Linked DNA regions of Homo sapiens. The protein of the gene in region 3 interacts with the protein of the main gene of each other region in a biochemical or structural test. Each region holds a gene or a part of one and is shown on either strand. Other genes may lie near its edges.

What was found.
Region 1: of the proteins of USP15 (region 3) and TUT1, one has a biochemical effect on the other in vitro, tested with the Homo sapiens proteins (one study listed by BioGRID).
Region 2: of the proteins of USP15 (region 3) and GLUL, one has a biochemical effect on the other in vitro, tested with the Homo sapiens proteins (one study listed by BioGRID).

What each region holds. Positions count from the first base shown.
Region 1 is NC_000011.10:62,581,524-62,588,523, forward strand, and holds part of TUT1 (speckle targeted PIP5K1A-regulated poly(A) polymerase), read right to left. Parts: intron 179-7,000; coding exon 1-178. UniProt on the Homo sapiens protein: Poly(A) polymerase that creates the 3'-poly(A) tail of specific pre-mRNAs. Localizes to nuclear speckles together with PIP5K1A and mediates polyadenylation of a select set of mRNAs, such as HMOX1.
Region 2 is NC_000001.11:182,377,598-182,381,790, forward strand, and holds the end of GLUL (glutamine synthetase), read right to left. Parts: 3' UTR 501-4,193; downstream 1-500. UniProt on the Homo sapiens protein: Glutamine synthetase that catalyzes the ATP-dependent conversion of glutamate and ammonia to glutamine.
Region 3 is NC_000012.12:62,255,842-62,263,403, reverse strand, and holds the start of USP15 (ubiquitin carboxyl-terminal hydrolase 15), read right to left. Parts: upstream 3,001-7,562; 5' UTR 2,990-3,000; coding exon 2,901-2,989; intron 1-2,900. Other genes in the region: TAFA2 (chemokine-like protein TAFA-2), read left to right, coding at 3,860-3,925, 4,562-4,641. UniProt on the Homo sapiens protein: Hydrolase that removes conjugated ubiquitin from target proteins and regulates various pathways such as the TGF-beta receptor signaling, NF-kappa-B and RNF41/NRDP1-PRKN pathways.

The DNA.
Region 1 (7,000 bases), on a different chromosome or scaffold from region 3:
TGGCCAGCTGGTGACTGTCGGGGGCCGCTCCTTTGGGGGATTTGGAGGCCGGGCTCTGGAACTCCTTCTGCTCCCGTGGGCGGACACGCAGGCGATGTCCTCCCAGGCTGTGCTGGGACTGTGACAAGACAGCCTCTCGAGCACCCACGTCCCCCATCTCCACAATGGCAAACACTCCCTGGTAAACAACAGGGGCAGAGATGATGATTTTGGAACCAAGAATCTAAGCACGAGATCTACAGTGGATGAGAATATTTGAAATGGAGACTATCCCATAAATTGAGAATATTTGCTTGCTGTTTTCATAATAACAGGGGACATATCTAGAAAAGCAATTTTCAGCCAGGTGCAGTGACTCATGCCTGTAATCCCAGCACTTTGGGAGGCTGAGGCAGGAGAACTGCTTGAGCCCAGGAGTTGGAGACCAACCAGGGCAACATAGTGAGATCCCATCTCTACAAACAATTTTTTTTTTTTGAGATGGAGTCTTACTCTGTCACCCAGGCTGGAGTGCAGCGGGGTGATCTCGGCTTACTGCAACCTCTGCCTCCCAGGTTCCAGCGATTCTCCTGCCTCAGTCTCCCTAGTAGCTGGGATTACAGGCACATGCCACCATGCCCAGCTAATTTTTGTATTTTCAGTAAAAATGGGGTTTCACCATGTTGGCCAGGCTGGTCTCTAATTCCTAAACTCCTAAACTCGGCCTCCTAAAGTGCTGGGATTACAGGTGTGAGCCACTGCACCTGGCCAGTACAATTTTTTTAAATTAGCCAGGTAATCCCAGCTACTGGAGAGGAAGAGATGGGAGGATTGCTTGAGCCCGGGGGCTGAGATTGCAATGAGCCGAGATCGCACCACTGCACTCCAGTCTGGGTGACACAACCACACCCTGTCTCAAAAAAAAAAAGAAAAGAAAAAGAAAATTAGCCAGGCATGGCAGCACACACCTGTAGTTCCAATTACTTGGGAGGCTATGATAAGAGCATCACTTGGGCCCAGGATGTTGAGGCTGCAGTGAGCTGTGATTGTGATTGCACCACTACACACCAGCCTGAGAGACAGCGAGACCCTGTCTCAAAAAAAAGTAGAAAAACAATTCTTTCCCTCACTCCTATTCCAAACATTTTACTCTCACCCCAGTCTGCCTCTAAAAACCTCATTTTATCTACATTATTTGTCCCCTACTCTTCCCAATGATGTGATTACACTATGACCCACCCTATAACTTTTCCTGATATAATTAGAATTTTTTTAAACATTTATTAAGGATCCATGTAACAGAATGAGTCCACTTTAAAAATCTTTTAAAAAATCAATTCATGCAGCTGGGTGCAGTGGCTCACGCCTGTAATCCCAGCACTTTAGGAGGCCGAGGTGGGTGGATCACGAGGTCAGGAGATAGAGACCATCCTGGCTAACATGGTGAAACCCCGTCTCTACTAAAAATACAAAAAATTAGCCAGGCGTGGTGGTGGGCGCCTGTAGTCCCAGCTACTAGGGAGGCTAAGGCAGGAGAATGGCATGAACCCAGGAGGCGGAGCTTGCAGTGAGCTGAGATGGCGCCACTGCACTCCAGCCTGGGCGACAGTGGGAGACTCTGTCTCCAAAAAAAAAAAAAAAAAAAAATCAATTCATGTAATAAACACTGTGCGAGGCATAAATACAAACTCATAAACCCTGTCTTCAAGAACTCACTATCTAGGAATAACAGCAATATAACAACTATATTGTTGTAAGTTGGTGAGTTCAATGATATTCACTGGCCATATTTTTTTAAAGGTAAAATATTAGCAAGAAGAGGAAAAACGCCGGGCGCAGTAGCTCACGCCTAATCTCAACACTTTGGGAGGCCTAGGCGGGTGGATCACTTGAGGTCAGGAGTTCAAAACCAGCCTGACCAACATGGCAAAACCCCATCTCCACTAAAAATACAAAATTAGCCAGATATGGTGGTGCATGCCTGTAATCCCAGCTACTCAGGAGGCAATTGCTTGAACCCGGGAGGCGGAGGTTACTGTGAGCCGAGATTGTGCATTGTACTCCAGTCTGTCCAGTCTGGACAACAAGAGCGAATCTCCGTCTCAAAAAGAAAAAAAAAGAAGAGGAAAAACAGGACTGCTTTAGGCAAAAAAGTCCATATTCTTTTATATCCTCCAATGGTAAAGCTGGACCCTCATCTTGTTTATAAAAAGGTTCCTGCTAGAGTAAGGTAGCACCAAGACAGAGTGGTGCTAGCATAAAGATAGACATTCAGATGAAGGGAATGGAATTGAGACCCTGAAAGAAATTCACACATCTTTGGTCAACTGATTTTGAACAACGGTGTCAAGAAGATTCAATGGGGAAAGAACAGTCTTGTCAACAAATTGTGCTGGGACAACTGGATAGCCACATGCAAAACAATGATGTTGAACCTTTACCTCACACCATACATAACAATTAACTCAACCAGGAGGATGGCTTCACCAGTACACAGGCCTAAATCACAAATGGGAAGTAACCAAGAAAGGATAAGGCGTTTCTTTTTGGAGTGGTGAAAACATTCTGGAATCAGTCATGAGGGTTGAAGAACCCTGTGAATATACTAACACTCACTGAATTGTATTTTTTTTTTTTTTTTTTTGAGACAGAGTGTCTCTGTCACTCAGACTTGAGTACAGTGGCACACTCTCGGCTCATTATTACCTCTGCCTCCCGGGGTTCAAGCAATTATCCTACCTCAGCCTCCCTAGTAGCTGGAATCAAAGACACGCACCACTACACCTGGCTAATTTTTGTATTTTTAATAGAGATGTGGTTTCACCACATTAGCCAGGCTGGTCTCAAACTCCTGATCTCAAGTGATCCTCCCACCTCGGCCTCCCAGAGGGCTGGGATTACAGGTATCAGCCACCACACCCACCCCTAAATTGTATACTTTTTTTTTTTTTTTTTTTGAGATGGAGTTTCGTTCTGTCACCCAGGCTGGAGTGCAGTGGCACGATCTTGGCTCACAGCAACCTCTGCCTCCCAGGTTCAAGTGATTCTCCTGCTTTCTGCCTCCCGAGTAGCTAGGATTATAGGTGCCCACCACCACACCCAGGTAATTTTTTGTATTTTTAGTAGAGATGGGGTTTCACCATGTTGGCCAGGCTGGTCTCCAACTCCTAACCTTAGGTGATCCACCTGCCTCGGCCTCCCAAAGTGCTGGGATTACAGGCCATGAGCCACCATGCCCAGCCAATTGTATACTTTTTGTTTGTTTATTTTTTTACCCAATAGTAAATAACCAACCAATGAATTGTATACTATTTATTTTATTTTACTTTTTTTTTTTGAGAAGGAGTCTCGCTCTGTTGCCCAGGCTGGAGTGCAGTGGCACGATCTCGGCTCACTCCAACCTCCGCCTCTCGGGTTCAAGCAATTCTCCTGCCTCAGTCTCCTGAATAGCTGGGATTACAGGAATCTGCCACTACGCCCAGCTAATTTTTTTGTATTTTTAGTAGAGACGGTTTCACCATGTTGGCCAGGCTGGTCTCAAACTCCTGACCTCAGGTGATCTAACCACCTCAGCCTCCCAAAGTGCTGGGATTACAGGTGTGAGCCACCTGGCCCGGCCACACCCTTCTTTTTTTAAAGACAGGATTTTGCTCTGTCACCAAGACTGGAGTGCAGTGATGTGATTATAGCTCACTGTAGCTTTGAATTCCTGGGCTCAAGCGAACCTCCCGCCTCAGCCTCCTCAGTAGCTGGGATGATAGGGGCACATCACCATGCGCAGACTTACTTCTACCCCTATGCCAAACACAGCAAAGAACTGAAGTGAGGCCAAGGACAAAGGTAGCTACTTGGACCTGCCCAGGCCAGTCTTCTGACTCTAATAAACCACAGTTTACCAGACTGCAGTACACCACCAAGTTTGTAACCAAAGCCCCAGATGGAAATTAAGAGTCTCTTTCACTGGGCCTGTCTGTGCTCCTATTTTTCTCCAAAACCTCACAGAAGGCATCAGGGAGGGCAGGACTGGCAGATTCAGAAGACTGTGTCAGCTGGGCGTGGTAGCTCATGCATGTAATCCCAGCACCCTGGGAGGCTGAGGCGGACAGATCATGTGACGCCAGGAGTTCCAGACCAGCCTGGCCAACATGGTGAAACCCGTCTCTACTAAAAATACAAAAATTAGCCGGGCATGGTGGCAGGCGCCTGTAAACCCAGCTACTCAGGAGGCAGAGGTTGCAGTGAGCCAAGATCGTGCCACTGCACTCCAGCCTGGGAGACAGAATGAGACTCCACCTCAAAAATAAATAAACAGGCCTGGCACGGTGGCGCACGCCTGTAATCCCAGCCTGTAATCCCAGCACTTTGGGAGGCCGAGGCAGGCGGATCACCTGAGGTCGGGAATTCCAGACCAGCAACATGGAGAAACCCCATCTCTACTAAAAATACAAAATTAGCCAGGCGCGGTGGCGCATGCCTGTAATCCCAGCTACTCGGGAGGCTGAGGCAGGAGAATCACTTGAACCCGGGAGCCAGAGTTTGCGGTGAGCTGAGATCGCCCCAAGCCAAGTTCGCGCCACTGCATTCCAGCCTGGGCAACAAGGGCAAAACTCCATCTCAAATAAATAAATAAATAAAAATAAGGAGCCTGTGTCCTTGCCATTTTTGTCCTCTCAACACCACCATCCATAGCTAGAGTTACTATTTGTTGAGGGCTTATTATAAACTAAGCAGTTCACACAAACGATGTCTGAGGCTCATAAGACACCTACGAAGTATGTATTATTATTTCCATTTTACAAATTAAGAAACTGAAACTCAAAGAGGTTAAGTAACTTGTAACTGCCTCACAAGCAGTGTCTTAAACTCCCAAATCTCCAACTGCCTACTGACCATTTCCCTTAAGAGAATGTTGTGGAGATTAGATGCAAGTGTACATAATGTGCTTAGCACACAATTGATGCATAGTAGTTCCTCAATAAAAATGTTAATCATTAGGCGGAGCACAGTGGCTTACGCCTGTAATCCCAGCAGTTTGCGTGGCTGAGGTGGGCAGATCACTTGAGGCCAGGAGTTCAAGACCAGCATGGCCAACATGGAGAAATCCTGTCTCTACTAAAAATACAAAAAATTAGGCCAGGCACAGTAGTTCACACCTGTAATCCCAGCACTTTGAGAGGCCGAGGTAGGCGGATCACCTGAGGTCAGAAGTTCGAGACCAGCCTGGCGAACATGGTGAAACCTGGTCTCTACTAAAAATACAAAAATTAGCCGGGTGTGGTGGCACGCGCCTGCAGTCCCAGCTACTCGGGAGGCTGAGGCGGGAGAATTGCTTGCTGGGATTACAGGCGCCTGCCACCACACCCAGCTAATTTTTGTATTTTTAGTAGAGATGGGGTTTCGCCATGTTGGCCAGGCTGGTCTCGAACTCCTGACCTTAGGTGATCCTCCCACCTCAGTCTCCCAAAGTGCTGGGATTACAGGCGTAAGCCACTGTGCCCAGTCGAGAGAAATACTTTTTCTAAAGGCCTCCTCAGTAAACTTCTACTTATATCTCAGTGGCCAGAATTCTACCACAAAAAAACTCCCTCTCAAAAAAAAAAAAAAAAAAAGGAAAAAGAAAAGGCATTTTTCTCAGAATAAAAGGAAAAAAAATAGAGGAGGGGACTCAAACTCAGCTGACACTAACCTTTTTTTATGAGATGGAGTTTCGCTCTTGTTGCCCAGGCTGGAATGCAATGGCGCGATGTCGGCTCAAGGCAGCCTCCGCCTCCCGGGTTCAAGCGATTCTCCTGCCTCAGCCTCCCGAGTAGCTGGGATTACAGGCATGTGCCACCACGCCCCGCTAATTTTGTATTTTTAGTAGAGACGGGGTTTCTCCATGTTGGTCAGGCTGATCTCGAACTCCCGACCTCACATGATCCACCCGCCCCAGCCTACCAAAGTGCTGGGATTACAGGCGTGAGCCACTGGACCTGGCCGACACTAACCTTTTATACTCTGCCCTACAAGCTGCCCCTTCTTCTTTTCTGAAGATATGGGGCAGCAGTATCGTAACTATGAAGAGCCACATACCAATAATGGCAGAGCAGGAAAACAGCAAAGCCCTGAACTGTCCAGGTCTGGACTTCTTGTTACATGAGAAAAACTAAATTCCTATTGTTTAAGCCATTTGTAGTTTGGTTGCTGAATGCAATCCCTAACAAACACAGGCTCCACCCCATTCTAAAAGATAACCTGGGCTGCAAAGGGATATTTTGGATCACCTAAGCCATGCCTACATAACAAGAGTACAGCCTCAGAACCACAGTATGACCAAGGAACACAGCACCTCAACAGTGAACTTTTTTCAAGGGACCAAAACCTACAGGGAAGCAACACAAAAAGCACAAGCTTGTTTATCTAACACTCTCCAAAGGACAGGGTGTTCTAACCAAACAACCTTAGTACCCTCAGTGTAAGTTAATAAACTGCTAACTGGTTTATCAACCAGGTTCTTGTGGAGTTGATCCAATGGTATGTTGTTCTTTAAGCACCAACTTTCACTATAATTACTTAATTGTTTACTTTCTCCTCTAGACTATAGGCTCTGTGAGAGCAGGGACCATATCTACCCCATTCACTACTCAGAATGCAGCCCTAAGCATAGTGCCTAGTACAAAGTTAGCTGTGAATAAATATTTGGCAAAGAATTCACTGAATCAATAGATGACACACACAAAAAAATCCCCCAGTGACTAACTCTGGTGAAGTGATAAAATCCAAAGGGTGGGACTGGGAGCAGTGGCTCACGCCCGTAATCCCAGCATTTGGGGAGGTTGAGGTGCACGGATCACCTGAGGTCAGGAGTTCGAGACCAGCCTGGCCAACATGGTGAAACCCTGTCTCTACTAAAAATACAAAAATTAGCTGGGCATGGGGGCACGCGCCTGTAATCTCAGTTGCTTGGGTGGCTAAGGTGTGAGAATTGCTGGAACCCAGGAGGTAGACGTCACAGTGAGCTGAGATTGTGCCACTGCACTCA
Region 2 (4,193 bases), on a different chromosome or scaffold from region 3:
TTGAAGAGATGGATCCTCTCTTGCAAAGGAAGCTCTGGAAAAGTGCATTCTCTTACTGTACTGTCTCTCTAAATTTAGCTAATTAGATCACAGGTTCCTTCCCAGAGTCCAGGCAAGTGTTCACTTCTTCCAAAAAACGAAAAAAGGAATCCTTTTCCCTCTCCTCCCACAATGTGATACTACATTTCATTCTGTAGCCTTATTTAAACAGTTACCAAAACAGCTCACAAAATCATTTGAGAATAAACTGGGATACATAGCAATGGGCCCAGGAGTCCCCTTCCTTTTGGTGCTGCCAGTGACAACCTTTAGCTATAAAAGGAGGGTCATAAAGGAGACTTGACCATTCACTTGACCACCCCTCATTCATATGCTTTCCCCAACACACCAAACTAGTGCCTATTTGACCCCCATTTCATTTGATTATTAATTTTTTCACATCTTAAATGCTGATTCAATTTACTGTCAATAGAGGAGTAAAACAGAGTCACAGAGAAGGAGTTATTCTAAACCTTTATTGAAAGGCAAATGCAGAAAGCCTTCAACACAGAGGATAGATTTAGTGACTGAGGGCCCACTGGAGTTTAACTAATAGATCTGCTGACTACGCCGTACAGTGGAGGAAACACGCTGCAATCTCAAGACAATGCAGGTAACTCAATCTGAAATCCATCAAAAAGAGGACAACTTGCTCAGGTACAAGGCCCCTGAAAAGTAACTCATCAAATGACAATAGGAACTGTGTGGACACTCCCTCTGTAACATGCACTAGGATATCACTCTCCTATATTAGAGGAGCTCCAAGCAGTGTATCATGCTCAAATATTTATTAATTGACAGTGTCCGACAACCTCCTGTCCATAAAGCATGGCAGAGTGGGTAATTAATTGGAAAGAGTTGGCAGTAGAACTTTAAGAACAATTATACCTTCTACATCTTACCACTCCCCATTCCTAGTGACAACTTTCTCATCTCGGCGAATTCTCTTGTGTACTGTTTCTGGAACATATATTACTAAATTCCTGTCTCCTTTACAAAATGCTGTATCTTGGGCAAAAGACATATGTATTGTGCTTGTATTGTGTATCTAATGTGTACATATATGCATATTCTCACAAATATGGTATACATTTATATTATGCATGTGTATGGACATATATCTGCATATTGTAAAATGAAATAGAATTTTTTTTTTCTTGAGATGGAGTCACACTCTGTTGCCTAGGCTGGAGTGCAATGGTGCAAGCTTGGCTCACTGCAACCTCCGGCTCTTGGGCTCAAGCGATTCTCCTGCCTCAGCCTGCCACTCGGCAGGGTGGGATTACAGGTGCTCACCACCAAGCCCGGCTAATTTTTGTATTTTTAGTAGAGATGGGGTTTCACCATGGTGGCCAGGCTGGTCTCAAACTCCTGACCTTAAGTGATCTGCCCACTTTGGCCTCCTACAGTGATGGGATTACAGGCTTGAGCCACCATGCCCGGCCTGAAGTAGAATTTTTTTAAATGAACGGTCGGAGATCGAGCTAAAGGCTATAAAATGGCAGGGTTCTAATCAGCTCAGATTGTTTTCAGTAGAAATGTACGCAAAGTCTTTGGAGTTAAATGATGAACTGCCACTTATTTATTTATTTATTTGTTTATTTTTTGATATGTCTCACTCTTTTGCCCAGGCTGGAGTGAAGTGGAGTGATCTTTGCTTACTGTAACCTCTGCCTCCCTGGCTCCAGCGATCCTCCTGCCTCAGCCTCCTGAGTAGCTGGAATTATAGGCACCCACCACCACATCTTGCTAATTTTGGTATTTTTAATAGAGACAAGGTTTCACCATGTTGGCCACGCTGGTCTCGAACTCCTGAACTCAGGTGATCCACCTGCCTTGGCCTCCCAAAGTGCTAGGATTACAGGCTTGAGCCACCACACCCAGCCTAAACTGCCAGTTTACATCAGTTATAATTTTTTTTTGTTTTTTTGAGACAGGGTCTCACTTTGTTGCCCAGACTGGAGGGCAGTGGCACAACCATGGCTCACTGCAGCTTCAAGTAATCTTCCCACCTCAGCCTCCCAGGTAGCTAGGACTACAGGTGCATGCCACCACGCCCAGCTAATTTTTCGTATTTTTTGTAGAGATGGGGTTTTGTCATGTTGCCCAGGCTAGTCTCGAACTTCTGAGCTCAAGTGATCTACCTGCCTCGGCTTTTCAAAGTGCTGGGATTACAGGTATGAGCCACCATGCCCAGCCTCAGTTACAACTTTTTTTTTTTTTTTGAGATGGAGTTTCCCTCTTGTTGCCCAGGCTGGAGTACAATGTTGCAATCTCAGCTCACTGCAACCTCCGCCTTCCAGGTTCAAGCAATTCTCCTGTCTCAGTCTCCCAAGCAGCTGGGATTACAGGCATGTGCCACCACGCCCGGCTAATTTTTTGTATTTAGTAGAGACACAGCTTGTTTCACCATATTGGCCCGGCTGGTCTCAAACTCCCGATCTCAGGTGATCCACCTGCCTCGGCCTCTCAAGGTGCTGGGATTATAGGCATGAGCCACTGTGCCTGGCAGTTATAACTCTTAAAGCAACACAAGGCTCTTGGTAGCCTGATTACAATGAGAATTAATTAAGTACACTATTTTCCACAGTACACTCCCACGAAGTTTTTAGTGCTGCCATAATGTTTGTAGTAAAAAGAATCAACATTTTCAATTTGTTTTTTGGGGTTTTGTTTGTTTTGTTTTGTTTAGGCAAGGTCTTGATCTGTCACCCAGGCTGGAGTGCAGTGGTGCAATCACAATTCACTGCAGCTTCAATTTCCTGGGCTCAAGTCATCCTCCCATCTCAGCCTCCTGATAGCTGAGACTACAGGCGTGCAATTTAAAAAAAAATTATTTTGTGGAGTCTGGACCTCACTACATTGCCTAGAACGGTCTCAAACTCCTGGGCTCAAGAGATCCTCCTGCTGCAGCCTCACAAAGTGTTGGGATCACAGGCGTAAGCCACTTCACCTGGCCTTGATTCTTTTTAAGCTCAATAAAAATGGAACTTTGTCTTGCTGTCATGGCCAGAGTTAAAATACAGTCAAACAACAAAGACCTCATAGAGTTAAAGCTCACAAAACTGATACTTAAAAATAACTTATTAAATAAGTATTGCAGGCACTACAACAGGTCTCAAGATACAGTGGTGAGCAAGAAAAACAGGATCTCTTGCTTTCATGAAGTTCAACTAGAAAGTCCTGTCGAATGATGAGACATCTTTCTTTGGGGCAGCAAGTTACTTTCACTTAGTGGTAAAAGGGCCAAGAATAGTTCAGGAACTTCTCATCCACTTGTCTACCCTTCTACACAGACAGCAGCACAGATCTGGCTTTTTACATGGCCCTAGGCCGGGTGCAGTGGCTCACGCCTGTAATCCCAGCACTTTGGGAGGTGGAGGAGTTCAAGACCAGTTCAAGACCTCACTTTGGGAGATCAGGAGTTCAAGACCAGCCTGGCCAACATGGTGAAACCCCATCTGTACTAAAAATACAAAAATTAGCTGAGCATGGTGGTGCACACCTGTAGTCTCAGCTACTTGGGAGGCTGAGGCAGGAGAATCGCTTGAATCTGGGAGGCAGAAGTTGCAGTGAGCCAAGATTGCGCCACACTATACTCCAGCCTGGGTGAGAGTCAGACCCCGTCTCAAAAACAACAAAAGGCCCTAGACAACACCCATCCATGGAATTCTTTCAAATTCCCTATAGCTTGTGCTATCAGTTGTTATTTAGTACCTGGCAAGATGATATTAGGGGAACTCATATTTAAGGAGTTCATGGAGACCTCCTTTTGTAAATACTGGCCTGACTCCTTAAGGTTGAAAGCTTGGTCATTATTCTGTTTAATCTATCACTGATAAAAGTTATCACATAACCCATTGTCTGCAAATGAACTATAAAAAACACCTTAGAAATACAAGGGGATTGCACTGTGACCTGTAGGTCAAAGCTAATTCTAGGTGAGAGGGTGAAGAAACAAATATGCTGGTTGTTTTCACCTAAATTCTGATCCTATGAATTTAAAATTCCTTCTCATGCAATCATTTTGTCATGGAATTGATTACAATGAACAAAATCCAAAGTGCTCAGGTCACTGCCTCTTCAGTTTAGTGCTTACACTGTAGGATACACCATCCAAGAGGCTGTAAGGGTGGCCAAGCAAAGGGAAGACA
Region 3 (7,562 bases):
AAGTGCTCAAAAGCTAGTAAATGAAATTTATTCACTGTGATGCATATGACTATAACTTCAGACATGTGTATTAAACTTTCAAGAATAAACTTATGGTAAACCCACCATTTTTTCTCAACAGCCCAATCAGTCTTTCCTAGACAGTTACATACATATGCCACGACAATATTCCACAGGGCAAATTTCAAATAACCTGATTCAAAGATTAAAAAAAGATATTAAAAGGAAAAACAACTTTCTAGTGAGTTCCAAAAACATAAACTAAATTATTACATATCACCACCAGTTCTGTACCTGTAAGTTCATCATCAAATTTATACTTATCAAATTATTCTCTTTAAAATTCTGAATCAAATTTTTGCTCTCTACTACTTTGTTTTTGGACAGGTTTCACTTGCTAATTTGCAAATAAACTGGCTCACAAATAAACCAAACTGGTTTCTGCAACTCCCAGTACCATCTTTCTCTTGCAGTTTTTTTCCTTTAAGAGAAAATTAACGTGAGGATAAACTTGCACAATCTGCTTTTATCTAAATATGTGGCCCTCAGTTTACTTTTATTTAAAATAAAAGCACTGAAATGACTTAAATTTATGAGCCTCTTGTATTTAGTCATGGTTCATACTTGTAATACTAGCATTTTGGGAGGCTGAGGTGGATCACTTGAAGCCAGGAGTTCAAGATCAGCATGGGCAATATAGTGAGACACTGTACCTATACAGCTATACACGCACACACACACGCACATATATAAAACAATTTACATTAATTTTGTAAAAAAGCAAAAATATACTTATTTGAAAATACCAAACTTCATAAAGTTAAACGCCCACAATGCACATATTGCTCCTATCATCCTGTAGTGTCAATGCTACCAATTACTCTATATACAAAAACGTGACATTAATGAGAGACAATAACACTTATATTTTAACTTATAGACTTACAGATTTCTATTTTAAGGAAATTCACTTTTTAAAATAAGGTGGTACTAGGTTGGGTGAATTAAGAATTTTTAAATGTTCTTTAACTTACAATAGCCAGCGGGGACTTATTTGTCATTACCACAAGCCAAGGTAAACATGGGTGTCCTAGGAAATGTCCAATTTCCCCACAGTAATAAACATCTAACATTATAATAAAAACAATAACTTTTTTTTTTCTTTTTTTGAGATGGAGTCTCACGTTGCCCAGGCTAGAGTGCAGTGGCCGGATCTCGGCTCACTGCAACCTCCGCTTCCTAGGCTCAGGCAATCCTCCCACCTCAGCCTCCTGAGTAGCTGGGACCACAGGCGTGCCACCATGCCCAGCTAATTTTTTTGTATTTTTGTAGAGACGGGGTTTCACCATGGTGCCCAGGCTGGTCTGGAACTCCTGAGTTCAAGTGATCCTCCCTCCTCGGCCTCCCAAAGTGCTGGGTTACAGGCGTGAACCACCCTGCCAGGCCAACAATAACTATTATTAAGTCACTTGAAGATTCTATTTTTTTGATATAATGAAACAAGTATGTATTTACATCCTTAGGGATTTCTATCATACAAACATAGTATATAGCCTACCAAAAAAGAAAAAAGAGACTAAGACTTAGATCAAGGTTAAATTAAGGTCCTAAGTCTGCCACCTATTAGCTTAACTGAAAATGATCCCAATATCACAGCCTTTTGTCAGGAGTAAAGAGCAGAGATAAGAGGATAACTAAAATTTGATATCTCATAAATATGAAATTCTTAAGATATTAAAACGAATCAAGATAAAATCCTTATAATAAAATTACTGTCCATTTTACAGCATGAAGATAATGAGGTGCAATGATTTAAATTAACTCTCCTCAAAGCCATACTGCAAGTTGAGTGGTGAAACTGTGACATAACTCAGGTCTAAATCTTACTGTTCCTTTCACTATGCCATACTGAAACACTCTATGAATTATATACTACTGTTATGGTAACAGTGGAAAGTGAAAATATGTTTTATTATAATGAAGAGGCACATTATGCTTCCCAAAAAATAAGGAATTTTAAATTATGTTACATATTCACATATTTAAGTTATTGTAGATGCCACTTGATATGGTCGACAAGTGTGAAAATGTCCACATACATCCTTCAGTATTTTAAATGTATAACCTTTGGTATTTTACAAGTTTGAATATTAGCAGTTAGTTAAGCCTCAAGTGGACTTATCTACTTTTTGCAGGCCTACATTATCTTTCAAACAGAAGGGAAGGGCTGCACGTCTAACAGAAACGCTGCCGGCTTCTATCAAGCCACCACTAAAGCACAAGACCACGTGGTCTCTCATAAGCCCAAGGTTCCCTACTCCTCTCCCTCCTTTGACAAGGAACTGGAAACTAGGGTTTCTTTCTCTTATGTGGAGCCCTGACATGCCACCTGTGTAGTACAGACCGCAAACATCCTGCAGCCTGCCTCCCGGAAGACCAAGAATCAGAATAAAAGGGAACTTGGACGCCGACAATTCTAGGAAAGGAAATGAACAGAGAAGTAAAGCCGGTGAGATCGTGATAAGCCGCGGCACCGGGACCTGTCAAAACGGCGTATATAAGACTCAAACCAAACCACTATAACCTATCATTCGGGAAGGCCTGAGGTGGGAGCGGCACTACGGAAGGAAGGAGGACGAAGAGAACCGCACGAGTCAGAACCGCCGCCGCCGCCGCTCCCCGGATACCTTTCAGCATGCCCTGGCAAGCCAAGAACCCTGACCCTCATCTAGAGTCCAACCTTTGCCCCAACATTTCAGAAGCGGCCAAAATCCCGCTGCCCCGGCGGCCGCCGCCGGACCTGCCCGCACCTGTCACTAGCGAAAGAACCAGCTCGCGGCTCCCGCCCACTTCTCCACTATCCTCGGGCAACCGCGGGCATCTCAACCCCTTTCTCTTACCAGGTGTCCCCTTTCCGGAGCGAGGTTTTGAGCAGCGTCGCGATGTCAGACCGCTGGGTGTCCAGATCCGCCGCTCCGCCTTCCGCCATCTTCTTCCACTAGCGGTAGGGGAGGTGGCAGCGACGGCGGCGGCACGCCCCAGAGCATTATGGGAATGGCGTCCCACGGCCCCTCCCAGTCGGCCGGTCGAAACCAAAAGACACCGGGAGCGGGGGTGCTCCTCGGGACAAGAGGAGGCCCCGGGGGCGCACTGGGTGCGCGGCCATGGTCTGCTGCCCCCCATCGGTCCCCGCCCGTCCAGCATCTTGCCTTGGCCTCCTCTGGCCCGGGACTGCCGGGTTTTAGCTTTCCTCGCCGCCGAGGGCTCTGGCTCTCTCTCGCTAGAGGGATGCCACCGCCCTGTCCTCCCGTCCTCAGCGTTGCCTTCCCCTCCCTCTTTCCCACTGACGCCTTGAAAACCCTTATTTGCGCATTCACTCACGCTTGAGGGTGAGGTAGGGTGGGGCGGTGGTGTGGGGGCGTGGGGACGGCTAAGATATGGCAGAAAATGTAGCAGCTCAGTGACTGGGCTTTTCGTTACGAGTGGGAGAACCCAAGCTCGGTGAATATGGGCACACACAAAAAACACTCCGAAACCGAACGCTTGGTCTCCATGCCCTTCCTGGGTTCCTTCCAGCGCTCTTACTCCCGTTGTAGGTGGGGACCCTTTATAGGCTCTTTGTGACGCCTCCCCAGGCACACCCAGACGACTAAGCTGCAGTGAAAAACATGTCCCAGTTCATCGGTGAACAGGGAGTAGAATATGGACAGTATTGAATAATGCCAGATACTAAAGGAAGAAAACGTGCGAGAAACCCTCTTGTTTATACAGGATAGTAACATTTTCTTAGCCCCATCTTCGTATGGTGCCGTACACCTGAAATGAAACTAGATATGTCTTTAATTTGAAGTCAACGATTATGTTACAAAATAGAAAATCGAGTCGCTTAAAAATCAAATGCCAAGGTCACACAGCAGGTGGAGAGGTGAGTGGAGAGGCTGGTTCAAGAGCCCACATGCTATACAGTATAGCACACTCACTGCCTCTCCTTCTGAAAGCCTGAACTAAAATGTAAACTCTTTAAGAGCTGGAACTGGGTTCATCTTTTGTTTTAGCCTTTGTACACCTGGTGGTTAGCACAGTACTGATGGACATGTAAAAATTACCTAAATATTTGTTTAGTAAATGAATTGTGGCAAAATTACTTAAGTATTCCCGAGCATGATGTCCAGGGGTGTGATTTTAACATACCATATTGATGTGAAAAGTCTAAAAGATGGGCCGGAATCCCCACATCATTTCTCGTTTGCCCATTTTAAACCCTAACTCATTTGGTGAGAATGCGATAAAGGTAGGTGTAGTTATGCTAGTAGGAAGTGCTGAATCCAAGTGAAAGTAGTGTATATTGGCATTATGATTTGTGTATATCAGTATTATGATTATGATTGCTTATTTCTGCGTAATAATACTATTTTGCATTATCATGCCAACCTTGAATTGAGAGTTTTAAAACAACTTTCAGTGACTGCTATTTCTGGCTTTTCTCCTGACAGGTTAAAAGATTAAGAGTTTCTCTAACCACGGCTACCCTCTAAAAGTCACATTTTCCCCCTTTTTCCAGTCACTCTCTGAAAGAGAACAAAGTAATTTTCTGAAGGGAAGCTGCAGAATATGGAAAACATATATTGGAGCTACATGGATGTAAGTTCAAACCTCACTTCAACCTTTAGCTGCAAAGTTCTTGCCCTTTAATTGAATCATAAAATTGAGTATAATAATACCTACCTTAAGGGATTTTTATGAAGATTAAATGAAACAATTTGTGTTTATTGCCTGGGACGTAATAGCCATTCAATAAACACTAGTATTGTTTATTGATGACAGGGTGAATTGTACAGTATGTGAATTATACCTCAATAAAGCTATTGAAAAAAGGTGTTAGGGGCTTTGAAGGCAAAACTGTGCTCTCCTTCATTGTATAAACATAACATAACCAAGTAGCAATAAATCATTTATACCCTAATGTCCACTTTCCCTTAAGAGAAAATGCATTTTTGAAGTGTTGACAGCTACAACCATACAATGAAGTAAAATAATATTTTCTTCACTTGCACCATGCTCAAGGCAGCAGGTTAACTGGATATAGACGTGTAAATTCAATGCCAATTTGAATTATACATCAGATTTATGGAGCCGTTTTGTAGACCTAAGTAACTGCCATCAGAGTCAGGAAAGAGATAAAATTATAGTATTTTATTTAGCAAGCACTTACAGAGTGCCTAGCATGGTTCTAAACACTTTAAAATACTAACTTAATTCTCACAGCAATCACATGATTTTGGTACTATTATTATTTCAAGTCTATAGATAAGGAATTGAGGCAAGTAAGTGGCAGAACCTAAATTGAAACCAGGCAGTCTGGCTGCAGAATCTGGAAAGTTTGGGTAAACTTCAATTTTTCTATTGACCTTTATTATTTTGTTTACAGCAATCAACGTTTTAGTGATCTCAGTTGATCAGTTTATGGAAATTCTGCTTATTTTACTGGTGCTTCTCTCAATTATGAAGAGAAATAAGATATTGTTCATAAATTGGTTAAAGTCCACATCCCTACTGAATAATTAAGTAGATAAATTGATGAGAAAAGCTACTTCACCTTAATCACCAATAATTGAATATAAATCAGGGATTATATCTGCTTATTTAGAATGAATGTCTTCACTGATGCATTCCTTAGTTAACTTTTGATGAATGTACCAGTTTGCTTGGTGATTGTTATTGCCTTCTCAGACTCTCTGTACCTTTTTTGTCAATTTAAAACGTAACCTAGAGAGCTGAGTATGCTGAGTACTTAGGCTAGATATGAACAAGCTGGACCTCTTAAAGTCACAGTTGGTTGTGAAATTAGAGATTCTCTAGGAAGGATTCCTTTACCCTCTAGTAATTCCAAACCTCTCTGCTTACTGATATTTAAACAATTCCTTTAAGAGAGGTTCTTTTACTCAACAATTAAGAGATGGGACTTCAAATGTAAATACTCCAGGAGAGAGTTAGGTTTAAAACTAAAGTGTCAAAGAGAGCCAGTTTTCAGCCTGGGGTGAACCAGAGAAAAAAAGCACTGCATTTTGTAATACAGTTTAATGGAAGAAAGTACAAAGGAGAATTTCAAGATAAGTTTTGCCTATTTCATAATTTTTTGTGGGACTGGCTACATGAGCCTAAGGGAAAAATCTGCCTAAAATTTGAGTGGACTTAGCAAATCACACACACACACACACACACACACACACACACACACACATATATATGTATATATATATACACATGTACATACACACACACAGAATCAGCACATCCCATAAAAGAACAGTGTTTGATGACTGGCTGTCTTTATTTCTCAACTCTTCCTGTCTTTGATATTCAGGAACCACTGTCTCAGTTTTTCCTTCTCCTTGTCCTTCCTCTACAGTTATTCCCGCCCACGACCCTACCACCCCCTCATTCTTACTCACCTCTCTAAACCTTTCATTCTTTTATCTTATGTAATTGTATAATTCTCGTCTCTCTTTACCAGCTCTCAGAGCAGCTAAAAGGCAGTGGAAAGGCGGGGGAGTAGTGCAAACACCAAAATAGCATGTAGTAAAGTGCTTAATCTGTTAATGATATTTTGAAACTTGGGATATGAATAAAAATTGTAAGTGCCACGAGGCACTTTTGAAAGCTAAAAAAAATTACGGAGGGTCCTTATTTCAGACAAATGTTAGGTTCTGAAAAAGAGAATGAAAATATAGTAAGATGAAAACACTGCCTTTTACAAAGAGCCACTATACTTGGATTTTGACTCTGGCTCAGTGCCACTTGCTAGCTGGTAACCTTGGCTAAGTTATTTATTCTCTGTGACCATTCGTTTTCTTATTATAAAATAAAGTGATTAGATTTCGGAGGCTGAAACTCAAATACTTGCAGGGGTTAGATACAGCTAATGTAAATGGGTGAAGGAAATCTGTTGGGGATAATAAGGAGTTGTGGGACTGTTGAGCTGTCTATCCCAATTAAAGGTCTAAATTTAAAAAAATTAGAGCAAACAAAATTATATTTTCTGTCCTATAGGATCTAGAAAGTTTAATTTTAGCATGGGCATAAGGTCTACAAATTAATTAATCTAGGTTCCTACTTTATATCCTTTTTTTTTTTGGAGATGGAGTCTCACTCTGTTGCCCAGGCTGGAGTGCAATGGCATGATCTGGGCTCACTGCAACCTCTGCCTCCCGGGTTCAAGCGATTCTCCTGCCTCAGCTTCTTGAGTAGCTGGGATTACAGGCACCTGTCAACATGCCTGGCTAAATTTTGTATTTTTAGTAGAGACAGGGTTTCACCATGCTGGCCAGGCTGGTCTCAAACTCCCGACCTCTGGCGATCTGCCCGCCTCAGCCTCCCAAAGTGCTGGGATTAAAGGCATGAGCCACGTGCCTGGCCTATCCTCTTTTTAAGAAGTACATAAAGTGTACTAGAAAGCTGACTATACCATGAAATTTGATATCAGTCTGCCCTATAGTGGACTCTCACTACATGCTAATAGAACTAAATTGATTTGTTTTTATTTATTTGAGACAGAGTCTCAC